Linked DNA regions of Homo sapiens. The protein of the gene in region 3 interacts with the protein of the main gene of each other region in a biochemical or structural test. Each region holds a gene or a part of one and is shown on either strand. Other genes may lie near its edges.

What was found.
Region 1: the proteins of S100A7A (region 3) and SLC8A1 interact in a biophysical measurement, tested with the Homo sapiens proteins (one large-scale study listed by IntAct).
Region 2: the proteins of S100A7A (region 3) and MYH9 interact in a biophysical measurement, tested with the Homo sapiens proteins (one large-scale study listed by IntAct).

The regions. Positions count from the first base shown.
Region 1 is NC_000002.12:40,428,030-40,431,676, forward strand, and holds part of SLC8A1 (sodium/calcium exchanger 1 isoform A precursor), read right to left. Parts: intron 2,276-3,647; 5' UTR 2,252-2,275; coding exon 444-2,251; intron 1-443. UniProt on the Homo sapiens protein: Mediates the exchange of one Ca(2+) ion against three to four Na(+) ions across the cell membrane, and thereby contributes to the regulation of cytoplasmic Ca(2+) levels and Ca(2+)-dependent cellular processes.
Region 2 is NC_000022.11:36,290,463-36,294,109, forward strand, and holds part of MYH9 (myosin-9), read right to left. Parts: coding exon 3,630-3,647; intron 3,402-3,629; coding exon 3,297-3,401; intron 3,020-3,296; coding exon 2,867-3,019; intron 1,773-2,866; coding exon 1,524-1,772; intron 1-1,523. UniProt on the Homo sapiens protein: Cellular myosin that appears to play a role in cytokinesis, cell shape, and specialized functions such as secretion and capping. Required for cortical actin clearance prior to oocyte exocytosis. Promotes cell motility in conjunction with S100A4.
Region 3 is NC_000001.11:153,415,175-153,419,376, reverse strand, and holds the start of S100A7A (protein S100-A7A), read right to left. Parts: upstream 2,858-4,202; 5' UTR 2,814-2,857; intron 1,312-2,813; 5' UTR 1,295-1,311; coding exon 1,154-1,294; intron 233-1,153; coding exon 68-232; 3' UTR 1-67.

The DNA.
Region 1 (3,647 bases), on a different chromosome or scaffold from region 3:
AGGGTGTTTCCTTTTTGGGTTTTCCCAATTTGTACTCAGAAACGAAGTTAGAGACCTATTGTGATGTTTTAAATATTCCTTTTCTGAGTATATACCATGTGATTCAAAATAGAAGACCAATTTCTCAGCCTGTCTTAAGTCATCTGATAAACTGTGTCCCATCACTCATTTTATCATAGTCACAATGTAGTTAAAATGTGTAAATGTATAAAAGTAAAAATAAAATTCTGATGTAAATAAATTTAAGATCTCTGTGTGCAGAGCATATTGATAACTGGCACCCAAGCAAAGACTGATATCTTGAAAGGGATCTTGTATAAAAGCTATTCCATTCCTTGCATGCTATTTAATTTAAAAAATGATGCACAGACTCACATTCATAAACACACTGAACCACACACACACACACACACACACACACACATATATAATATAGAACTTACACAATTTCATCATTCTGGAATTCGAGCTCTCCACAAGTGTCCTCAAAATCCTCCCCTCCACCTCTGGCAGTCCCTTCGATGGTTTTATATGGAACGATAACATTTCCTCGAGCTCCAGATGTTCTCAATACTTTCACCTCCATGATGCCAATGCTCTCACTCACATGAGTCACAGGTTCCTCAAAAGTAAAAATGCCTGCGTGGTCATCATCAAAAATAGTTACAGTGGCAGTGGAGGGAGATCCGAGGCAAGCAAGTGTAGAAACATGATTGGCTTCCAGTATGCCATCTTCTGAAGCTTCAGAAGATACTTTGACATTGCTGAGATGCACAAGGAAATTTTCATCCTCCTCAAAGATATCATCATCTATGATACCCACTCTGATTTCCTTCTGGGTATCACCAGGCTTAAACACCACAGTTCCTTCAGTAAATTCATAATCAGACCCAGCATTTGCTGTGCCATCCTCTGTTCTGAAGTCAACAAACACAGTGTTAGTCAAATCACCACCTCTGCGGATAATGGTAAGGGCCACAGTACCACAGTTCTCCAGACACTGATATGTCCCTTGTTCAAAGAAGATCTTACTAACAGGGTCATTTTCAGTCACTTCAGTGTTGACCTCGTGCATGCTGACAGCCTTCCTTGCTTGGTCAGCTGCATGCCTCTTTAAAATGTTGCCAGCTCCAGTCATGAGGCGAGTAGCTTGAATGCGATAAAATGCTCTACTTTTTTGCTGCTGACTTAGGACTTGGTAGTTAGCTAATTCTATTAATTGCTCTATTTCTTTATCTGGATGCTTCTGCTTAAGTTCCTTCAGAATCCTAGCCATTTCTCGCCTAGCTTCTTCATCATCTTGGTCCCTCTCATCCACCTCCAGAACCAGAGCACCATCTAAGAAATTTTCAACATGAGAATTGACCACTTTCCCGTCCATTTCAATTTCAGTCTTAGAAGATGGCCTGTCTCCTTCATGTTCAATAATCATCCCCCTCTGCTTGCCAGCTCGATACCTCTTGTAGACATACTTGTAAAACAGAAGTCTCCTATCCGCTACCCAAGCGAACACAACACAGATGGGAAAGAAGAAGAAAGTAAGCAAACCTTCCCAGACCTCCACAACACCAGGAGATATGACAGACAAAATAATGTAAAGCCAGGTGTAGGCAAAGATGCTCCAGGCTGCTGTCACAAAGAAGACACGCAAATGCTTAATCTTCCTTGTCTCTCCGTCAGGCACCACATAAACACAGAGTGCAATAATGATGAACATATTGAATGCAGCACTTCCCACGATGGTGCTAGGACCGAGGTCTCCTGCAGTGAAGTTATGGCCACACACTTCAATTACTGAAAGGAGAATCTCAGGAGCAGAAGATCCCAGGGCCATCAAGGTCAGGTTAGAAACTGTTTCATTCCAGATCCTCACAGTTGTCTTGGTGGTCTCTCCATTGGGTTTCTTTATGGTTATTTCTTTTTCTTGAGATGTGATGACTTCTATAGAGGACATGAACCGATCAGCTATGATAGAGACTCCAAGAAACATGTAGACCATGGCCACAAAATACACAGTAGCTCTAGCAATTTTGTCCCCAAAAGAAGGGTCTTGGGGTTCCCAAATGGGCAAAATCACCCCTTTCTTACAGTAATATGATCCAGTACATTCACCAGTTTCATTTCCTTCTCCTTCCATTTCTGTCTCAGCAATTACATGGTCCACATGGGAAAATAAGAGACTCACAGTAACTAACAGATGAAATCCCATTGAAAAGGTGGGTGAAAGACTTAATCGCCGCATGTTGTACATGACACTTCCAACTGTCACAACCTACTGGTAAAAATAAGATGGGGGAGAGGGCAGAAAAAAAGTCATGTCATTAGAGCTGCAGCCAAAGCATTACTAATTACTTATTTTTATTACTCTTACCAAAATTTGTTTATATTTGACCATCACAAAACCGAAATTTGTTTATATTTGACCATCACAAAATCTATGGTGAATGATTGTTCTAAGACTCCATCAGTGACTAAGCAATCCTTTGTAAAGTTTACAACTCAATCTTTCTGTGAATTTACTACATGTAGTACCCATTCACTGAGCAAGATACACAATTGACTTACTGGAAAGGAAAAGTTCAATTTATATAGCCTTGCCTTATTAAACACACATTTATGCATGCTAATAGCCAAAATCACAGGACTTTTGAAGCATTAAACAATTTCCTCCTTTTTACTAAAGCAGATTTTCTTCTAAATTTGTGTTAGTACATCATCTTCCAAAAACGGTTTCAATGCCAAAAGCACCTTATTACAATTGATGCTTTGAAAATCAGACTCCGAAAAAATCCCACCAACACAAGGCCTGGTGATTATCTTAAACGCCAGAGAGCATCTTACACTGTATTTCATGAAATCATGTCCTATTGCTCCACACTTACTTGGAAACAAAACTTCAAGCTTGCCTGAAATCAAAGCTCAATGGCATTTGTTCTTGAGGAGAAAAAAATTCTGCTATAATGCAATATTTCCACACATTAAGTACAGTTTTTAAAAGCATGTTTTGATGAGAGCACATTTCTTTCTAATTTTCAGCCAGCCCAGGTCTGCTGATACATTAGCAGCTGGGCATCTGGTTCTTCAAGCACAGCTCTTCACATCTGTGTACAGAGCCTGTTTTTCTGCAGGCTGGAAAGGGAGATAAACAGGCCAAGGCCTAGTTGTGGGTAAGCGCCTGGCAGGCTGTGGAATCAGCGTCACCAACCTTAAAATGTTCCTTCTCGGTGTCGGTCATATTTTCCATGGTCATTCTAAAATACATATTAGTTCTGTCGAGGGTTCAAGTGACCAAAAAATGCAGGACCAATAATTCCATTTAAATTAGCTCATGTGGCATGACAAGAGTGACCACAAAATATACACATGATGAAGGACTGTAGGCAAGGAGGGCCATGGCAACAGAGTCAGTGAGCAGCACACAAAGCTTGGTAGGCATAGCAGTGGACTCAACCACCATGGCCTTAAGTCCACCCACCAGCTCAAGCAAAACTCTACTCAGACCTTACATCCCTTCTGCTTCCAGAACCTGGGATGGAGGTGAGGGGAAACTGAAGTAGAGGAAGGTCTGCTCCAAGTCAAGGTGACTGTCTCCCAGGCCTTGCAGGATGGACTAGTTATGACATCAGATAAAGCAGCAATAGGAAGAA
Region 2 (3,647 bases), on a different chromosome or scaffold from region 3:
GGCTGGAGTGCAGTGGCGTGATCTCGGCTTGCTACAGCCTCCACCTCCCAGCCGCCTGCCTTGGCCTCCCAAAATGCCAAGATTGCAGCCTCTTCCCGGCCGCCACCCCATCTGGGAAGTGAGGAGCGTCTCTGCCTGGCCGCCCATCGTCTGGGATGTGAGGAGCCCCTCTGCCTGGCTGCCCAGTCTGGAAGGTGAGGGGTGTCTCTGCCCGGCCGCCATCCCATCTAGGAGGTGAGGAGCGCCTCTTCCCGGCCGCCATCACATCTAGGAAGTGAGGAGCGTCTCTGCCCGGCCGCCCATCGTCTGAGATGTGGGGAGCGCCTCTGCCCCGCCGCCCCGTCTGGGATGTGAGGAGTGCCTCTGCCCAGTGGCGACCCCGTCTGGGAGGTGAGGAGCATCTCTGCCCGGCCGCCCCGTCTGAGAAGTGAGGAGACCCTCTGCCTGGCAACCGCCCCGTCTGAGAGGTGAGGAGCCCCTCCGCCCTGCAGCCGCCCCGTCTGAGAGGTGAGGAGCCCCTCCGCCCGGCGGCCACCCCGTCTGGGAAGTGAGGAGCGTCTCCGCCCGGCAGCCACCCCATCCGGGAGGGAGGTGGGGGGGTCAGCCCCCCGCCAGGCCAGCCGCCCCGTCCGGGAGGTGAGGGGCGCCTCTGCCCGGCCGCCCCTACTGGTTAGTGAGGAGCCCCTCTGCCAGGCCACCACCCCGTCTGGGAGGTGTACCCAACAGCTCATTGATAGCGGGCCATGATGACAATGGCGGTTTTGTGGAATAGAAAGGGGGGAAAGGTGGGGAAAAGATTGAGAAATCGGATGGTTGCCGTGTCTGTGTAGAAAGAAGTATACATGGGAGACTTTTCATTTTGTTGTGTACAAGAAAAATTCTTCTGCCTTGGGATCTTGTTGATCTGTGACCTTACCCCCAACCCTGTGCTCTCTGAAACATGTGCTGTGTCCACTCAGGGTTAAATGGATTAAGGGCGGTGCAAGATGTGCTTTGTTAAACAGATGCTTGAAGGCAGCATGCTCTTAAGAGTCATCACCACTCCCTAATCTCAAGTACCCAGGGACACAAACACTGCGGAAGGCCAAAGGGTCCTCTGCCTAGGAAAACCGGAGACCTTTGTTCACTTGTTTATCTGCTGACCTTCCCTCCACTATTGTCCTATGACCCTGCCAAATCCCCCTCTGCGAGAAACACCCAAGAATGATCAATAAAAAAATTAAAAAAAAAAAAAAAAAAAAAAAGACAGTCAAACCAGTTCATTAGAGAAAATCTGAAAAATGTAAAAAATCAGAAAGGAAAAGTCACTCCTCAACCCATCGCATGAAGACGCCCTCTTCCGCTGGCCTTCTCCCTGGGACCCTCAACAAGCCAGAGCCTGAGGGTCCTCTAAGCACTGGCCCCGCACGGCCCCTCCCCGGCGAGACCCTGAGGGAGCCCAGGCTTTCTCTGATGGGCCCTTTGCTTTGGACTCAGTGCTTGAAGGAGAGGAAATGCAAAGGATGGGGCCAACGGCCACACACCTGGTCAAACTTCTTCTGCTTCTTCTCCAGGTTGCACGCGCTCTGGCGCTGGTGGTCCAGGTCCACCAGCAGGTCGTCCAGCTCCTGCTGCAGCCGCGTCTTGGTCTTCTCCAGCTTGTCGTAGGCGGCCACCTTCTCCTCGTGCCGCTGGCTCAGGCCCTCCAGGTCCTTCTGGAGCTTCCTCTTCACCTCCTCAGCAGTTTCCAGGCACCCCACACTGTCCTCCATCTTCTTTTTCATGTCGGCCACCTGGGCAGGAGCAAGGAGTAAGCAGATGCCCGAGATGGCACCTGCTCAGGTGGCACACCCGTCCCTGGGGCAGCTGGGAGCCTGCCTGCCACACCGTGGAAGGGGCACCAGGGATCTGCCCAGTTATGAAACCGCCTCCCCCAGTCACTTCCCTCTCCACAGGGGCGAGACAAATGGAGCTTCTGCAAAGGGGCATCTGTCTACTGTGTGAAGCCCGGGGGAGGCTGACCCCCAGGCCCGCTGTGGGGGCTCCCAGCCCACATCCACACCAAGCCTCTTGCTCTACGGAGACTGCTCCCAGAGAGCAGGGCCAGTGCCCTGTAGGGTGTCCACGGGGTCCCCATCACCCAGCCCCATCCTTGCACTTGGAGATAAACCCACAATCAGGCACGCTCGCGGGCTACTCCTACCCTGACTGTGGAATGGACTCCCAGCCCATCCCGAGGTGGTTCAGGCCTTCTGGCCTGGCACATGGAGGCCCAAGATAGGATCTAGAGCAGGGGCTCTGAAACCATATTAGGCTACGGACCCCTTCGCAGTCTAGAGAGGCCAAGGGACTCCTTCTCATGACAATGTTGTAACAGGCATGAAATAAACATGGGATCAGCAGGGCAACCAGTACAGAAAAATGCAGTTGTCACACATTCTAAAAAACCATGGCTCAGGAAGCCACGTGCTGCTAGATAGCACATCAGATAACAAACAGCGCAGGCCTGGGACCCATGAGGCCAAGGAGCTCGGCCACAACCCTGACAGGGTAACTGGCCATTTCTACAGATGATGACGGCACAGGGACTGCCACCACCATGGCTTGCTGCCTACATCCATAATGGAAGCAATGCTGAATTTCAGCTAAAGACTGGTGAAAATAAAGGTGTAAAATAGTGAAAATAGTGGTGTCCCCCATCTAAGTCCACAGATCCCTGGATTCCTTTCCTTGAGAGCACTGATGTGGGAGAGCACGGTTGGCTTCCCAGGGGGAGAGCAGCAATGGGCCGGCCCAGCGGGCAGGGCTGTCCTGCAGTGCCCAGGCCAGTGCCCGGCCAGCAGCTCCCCAGCCTGCAGAGTCCGGCCGGTCCCCCAGGCCTCCAAACCTGGGCATGGAGGGTGGCGATCTGCTTCTCCAGGTTGTGCTTGGCCTCCTCCTCCTCCTCCAGCTGCTCCCGGAAGGAATTCTTCTCGTCCTCCACCTGCTTGAGCTTGGTGCTCAGGCTCAGCTTCTGCCGGTTCTCCTCCTGCAGCAGCTCCTACTCGCGGGTTGAGAGGGGTGCGGGTGCTTAGGAGGGTGGTGTCCAAAACCCAGGAACCCCACACCCTTGAGGAGAGGGAGGAGCTGGTCCTGCTGATTTAGGGGATGGCCACGTAAAGACCTGGAGGGAGCTGGGAGGACGCAGAGACCCACCCACAGGATGAAGCAGATGAAGGAGAGGATGGGCAATCCGATGGGCTCTGAAGCTAATGTTGCGTGGACACAGAGGCCTTTCTGGAGGGGTCCACCTTCTGGGAACCTGGCGCCACCCCTACCTGAGTGTCCTGCAGCTGGGACTCCAGCGCGGAGAAGTCCTTGGTGAGCTTGCTGGACTTGCTGTCGGACTGGCTGAGAAGCCCGGTCACGTTGTCCAGCTCCACCTGCACCGGGCGGGGAGACACAAAGGACCATGGACCCACCCCCACTGCTCCTGCCCCACCTCATCTCCTTTAGGTAAAGCTGGACCTGAGTCACAAGCTGAACCATGAGGGTCTGAGGAGCCAGTTTGAGAAGAGAGAGAGACAGAGAGCACACATGCACCTGGGGACCTGGGCCACAACTGCTGCTAGGGCCCACTGCCCGCGCCAGGGTCCTGGCGGAGGCCTCACCTGCAGCTTGGTGACCTT
Region 3 (4,202 bases):
CAAGTGTCTGGTGGGAGGAGACACTTATTGTTCCTGGGGTCTCTGGAGGCCCCTTGGTGGGGCTGGATCACTGGCTTCCCCCAGAACAGGGCGCCGCTCCATGGCTCTGCTTGTGGTAGTCTGCGGCTATGTCTCCCAGCAAGGACAGAAACTCAGAAAAATCAATCTTCTTATCCTCATTCTTGTCCTTTTTCTCAAAGACAGTGGCGAGGTAATGTATGCCCTTTTTGTCCTGTGAAGAGAAAAACATACAAAATAGAAAAATTCAATCACAAACAAGTTTTGGGCTGGGAGGGGAGAGGAGGAGGCAGAGATACAGACAAGTACCTAGATCTGCACAGGCATGGTCGTGGGGCTGAGAGCACAGGGTGAGTGGGTGAAGTTGGGGTGAGGACGTGAGTGTTATCCCTGGAGTTCTCTAAGGAGACTTTTTGTCTCACACCTCAGGATGGGAGGCAGGTCCTGTCCCGAGGCACTCTGTTAAGTGACCTTGGGGAGAGCAGTCCCCTGCCCCAGCCTCAATCTTGCCTGTTCCCAGCATTTAAGGGCACTGCCTACCTTAGTTCTACCCCAGGGCCTCAAAATTGGCCCTCATGCTTTGTTCTCTTCTTTCTCTGACCTCCTCTCCTTTCTTCTCCTTTTCCACCAAACTCATCTTCTGGGTTCCCTACTCTTGGTCATCTAGACCCTTTGGTACCTAGTAGCCCACAGGTTTTTTCAGATTTGCCAATGAGTTTTCTTTATTGCAAAGAGGGCTATTGATTTCTACTAGCAATGGAACTTCTAGTGCTTTCCCAGTAATCTCAGGGATGTTGATGTGGGGCCTTTGGGAAGCAGGACCTGAGCATGTGAGTTTCAGTCTCACAGAGAGAGGGTCAGTGAGCGCTGGGAGGGGACTGTGCACTGTCCTCAAGCTGCACACTTTGCTGACCATCTAATAACCTCCTTTATATCTGTATAACTCTTTCCCATTTTCATACTTTTTCGCCTACCATCCTTAGATTCACATATGATCCAAGCAATAAAGCCCTATTTGCAAATGGGAAACTTTTTAATCAGAGGATGAGGGTGACCTGTCCAAGGCCACATAGCAAAATGTATCCTCAGCCATGCCAGGGTCCAACCAACATTGAGAAGCTAGACCCCAACTCACACAGGCACTGAGGAAATTGGGGAAGTTCTCCTTCATCATCGTCAGCAGGCTTGGCTTCTCAATCTTGCCATCACGTCCGGTGTATTTGTGAAACATGTCGATCATGCCTATTATGGACCTCTCAGCTTGAGTGTTGCTCATCTTTGCTTTCAAAAAGCCTTCAGGAAATAAAGACAATCATTTCTTACCTTAGTTTGAATTAAGGTCTCTATGTGGGGGTGTTAGAAGGAGGGCTGAGGACAGAGTAAAAACAGCCCTAAGATGGAGCAGAAGGAACTTGATTTTTTTAAATGTGATGGGATAAGTTGTTCAAAAATGAGAGGGTAGGACCAAGTCTGAGACCCGGCCCATCCTGGCCAGGGCCAAGAAGAGATGCAGGTGGATGGCAGAAGTCCAGCTGTGGACAGTGCTTCAGAGAAGGAGAAGCAGGGAGAGTCGGAGGCCAGCAACACATAGAAGAACTAAGCTGGGACCCCCCAGCCTCAACCAGCACATGGCGGACCCCACTCTTGAAACAGCACCAAATCCATCTCCTCCAGCTTCACAGTCGGGGTGAGAGTCACGGGGGCAGGACAATGGCCTTGGTGATCTGGTGTCTGACCCTCCTCGGCTGCTTCAGGAACCAGACACCGTGGGCCCCACCTTGACTCAAGTGCAAGCCCTGCATGACACAGTGCGTGCAGGCTCCAGGTGCACATGTGAGCGTGGACATGAGTGTGAGCAGGAAACACAGCCCTCTCCCGAGGACAGGGGGCCCTTCCTACATTCCCTTGGGAATGAGAAACAAGAATTGCCTCTGTTACAAGGAACAGAAATAACTCCCTGGTTCTTAAGCTGCTGGATGGGGTGGGAGTGAGGTGGGAGTCGCTTCATGTCTGCTCTTGGGAAATATCTGCACCCTCTGAATCACCAAGGGTTGACCCTGTTTAAATAAAAATGTCTGACTTTCCAAAGCAGATCTTCCAGCCAGTAGCCAGCCTGGGCTGCCCTGCACCCCAAGCCTGAAAAATAAGACAGTGCAGCTCTCATTTCTACACTTTCCAAAGAACCAGAAAAGGACCTTGGCTAACGCATGTGGGCATCTGACAATAAACCCCCAACACCTCTCAACGCAGGAGAAAGCTCCGTGCCAGCAACTGACTAAGAGAAGCCACTCAAAGCTTTCTGAATCTGAGGCCAAGGCCAAGGCCAGAGGCCAAGCCCTGTGCCCAGAGATTGACTGAGAATTTACAGGTCCAAGGCCTGGGGGTTTGGAGAGCCTCCAAAGCATTCACAGGGGATCCTTATCCCTCCTCCCTCTGTGGGGGCAGAGCTGGGGAGGGGATTCAGCAACTGGGATCCCAAAAGGAGAATGAATCCAGGGAGGAAGAAGACAGGAAGGAAAGGGAGGGTCCTGTGCTCAGGTCCCACTGGGGACATTTCCACAGGAGTTGTCTCAGGAGATCCCAAAGGAGCAATGGACAGGTCTGGTTCAGCCACCTGGTTGTACAGACGTGGGCTTTTGGGGTCAAGTGAAGGTCACACAGCCCAGCTAATGGCAGAGCTGGCCTAGACCCAGGCTTCTGAGACTTTGTCCACAGCCCTTTCCCTTCCTACAGGCAGCATGGCAGGCTGGGCACTGGGCACTTCTAGAAAATGCAAAGAGGCAGGTGAGACTTACCAGAACTGGGAAGTGTCACGAGTAGAAGGATGAGTGAGATGTGTGTGTTTGGACAAAGAGCAGTCCTTTATAAGGCTCAGCCTGGCTCTTCCCACGGGTTGGGAGGCCTGGGGCCACCTCTGTCATCTGTTTCTTGGAGGCTTGTCCCATATCAGGTGTGTGGGACACACCCAGGAGGCTGTGCTCAGGATTTCTGGCCAGGGTCCCAGGTCACCAGGTCCCACCCCACCCCAGAGACCTCACCTGGGGCCTTCTCTGGCTCAATCTTGATTTGAGGGTAAGGCAGCGGTACATGTGTAGTAACAGGTCAGGAAATGGGAGAAAAGAGCACTGGGCCTCTGGACCCAAAGAGAATGGAGTTTCAGACTCCCAAAGGCAGCATGGTCTTGTTTATTCCCTCCCCCAGTACTTCCACACATTTGTTGTGACAGCCTGTTCTATGACCCCCACCGCTTACTGAGCGTTTTAATGTCTAGACATCAAGACACCTGCTGCTCTTGCATCCTCCTCAACCCTCCCCTCATAGTCTTAAGAAGCAGGTGCTGCAATCTCTATTTTAGGAAAGGAGAAGTTGAGATGTTCCCAAGTTTACTCAGCTAGTAAACACAACAAATCATCACACGAACAAAGAAAAGCCTGAATCAAATCCTTACTCTTATCCCCTGTGCTATAGGTCTTGGGTTGCATCAGGGTCTGCCCTATGGGAACTCAAAGTCCAGGGAGGGAAGCAGGATTACTTCATTGCTAACCATTGGTCAGCCCCTCACAGAAGCCCTGGATTTAGGTGGGGGGACTGGGGTCAGGGGCCTCACTATCTAGGTTGAGTGGTGGAGTGACCCCCGCCCCCCCCGCCCCATGGAATGAGCCTGGAGGTAGGGAGTGGGAAAAGTTCTTTCCTGCCCCATGGCACTAACTTCCCAGAAAGTCTTCAGTGTTTTTCCTCCTCCTATGCAAAACAGCCTGTGTAGGAGTTGGGAGTTGTGCCCTTGGCTATAATGTGCCCTAACCTGCTGTGGAAAGCCTGAACCAGGTAGGGGCAAGAGGGTTGGGAAGGCACAGGAGTCCCTGGGGCATGGTGAGGAAAAGGAGATGATGAATCACTGAAATGGACTTTTTCTGCTACCCCCTTACAATGTTCCTTGTAGGCCGCAAGAGGTCCTGGTTCATTTAGTGCCAGCCCTTTAAGCACTCTGGGGCTCCATAGAGCTGATGTGATGTCTCCCTAGGTGGGACCTATTTTCTCCACCCATCATCTTTCTTCAACTTCCTTCTCTGTCAGTTCTTATGTAACCAGGGGGACCTGTTTCTCCCTCTCCCAGTTTCCCATATGACGGCAATATTACTTTTAGCGGCAAAAGATACACACACACACACACACGCACACACACA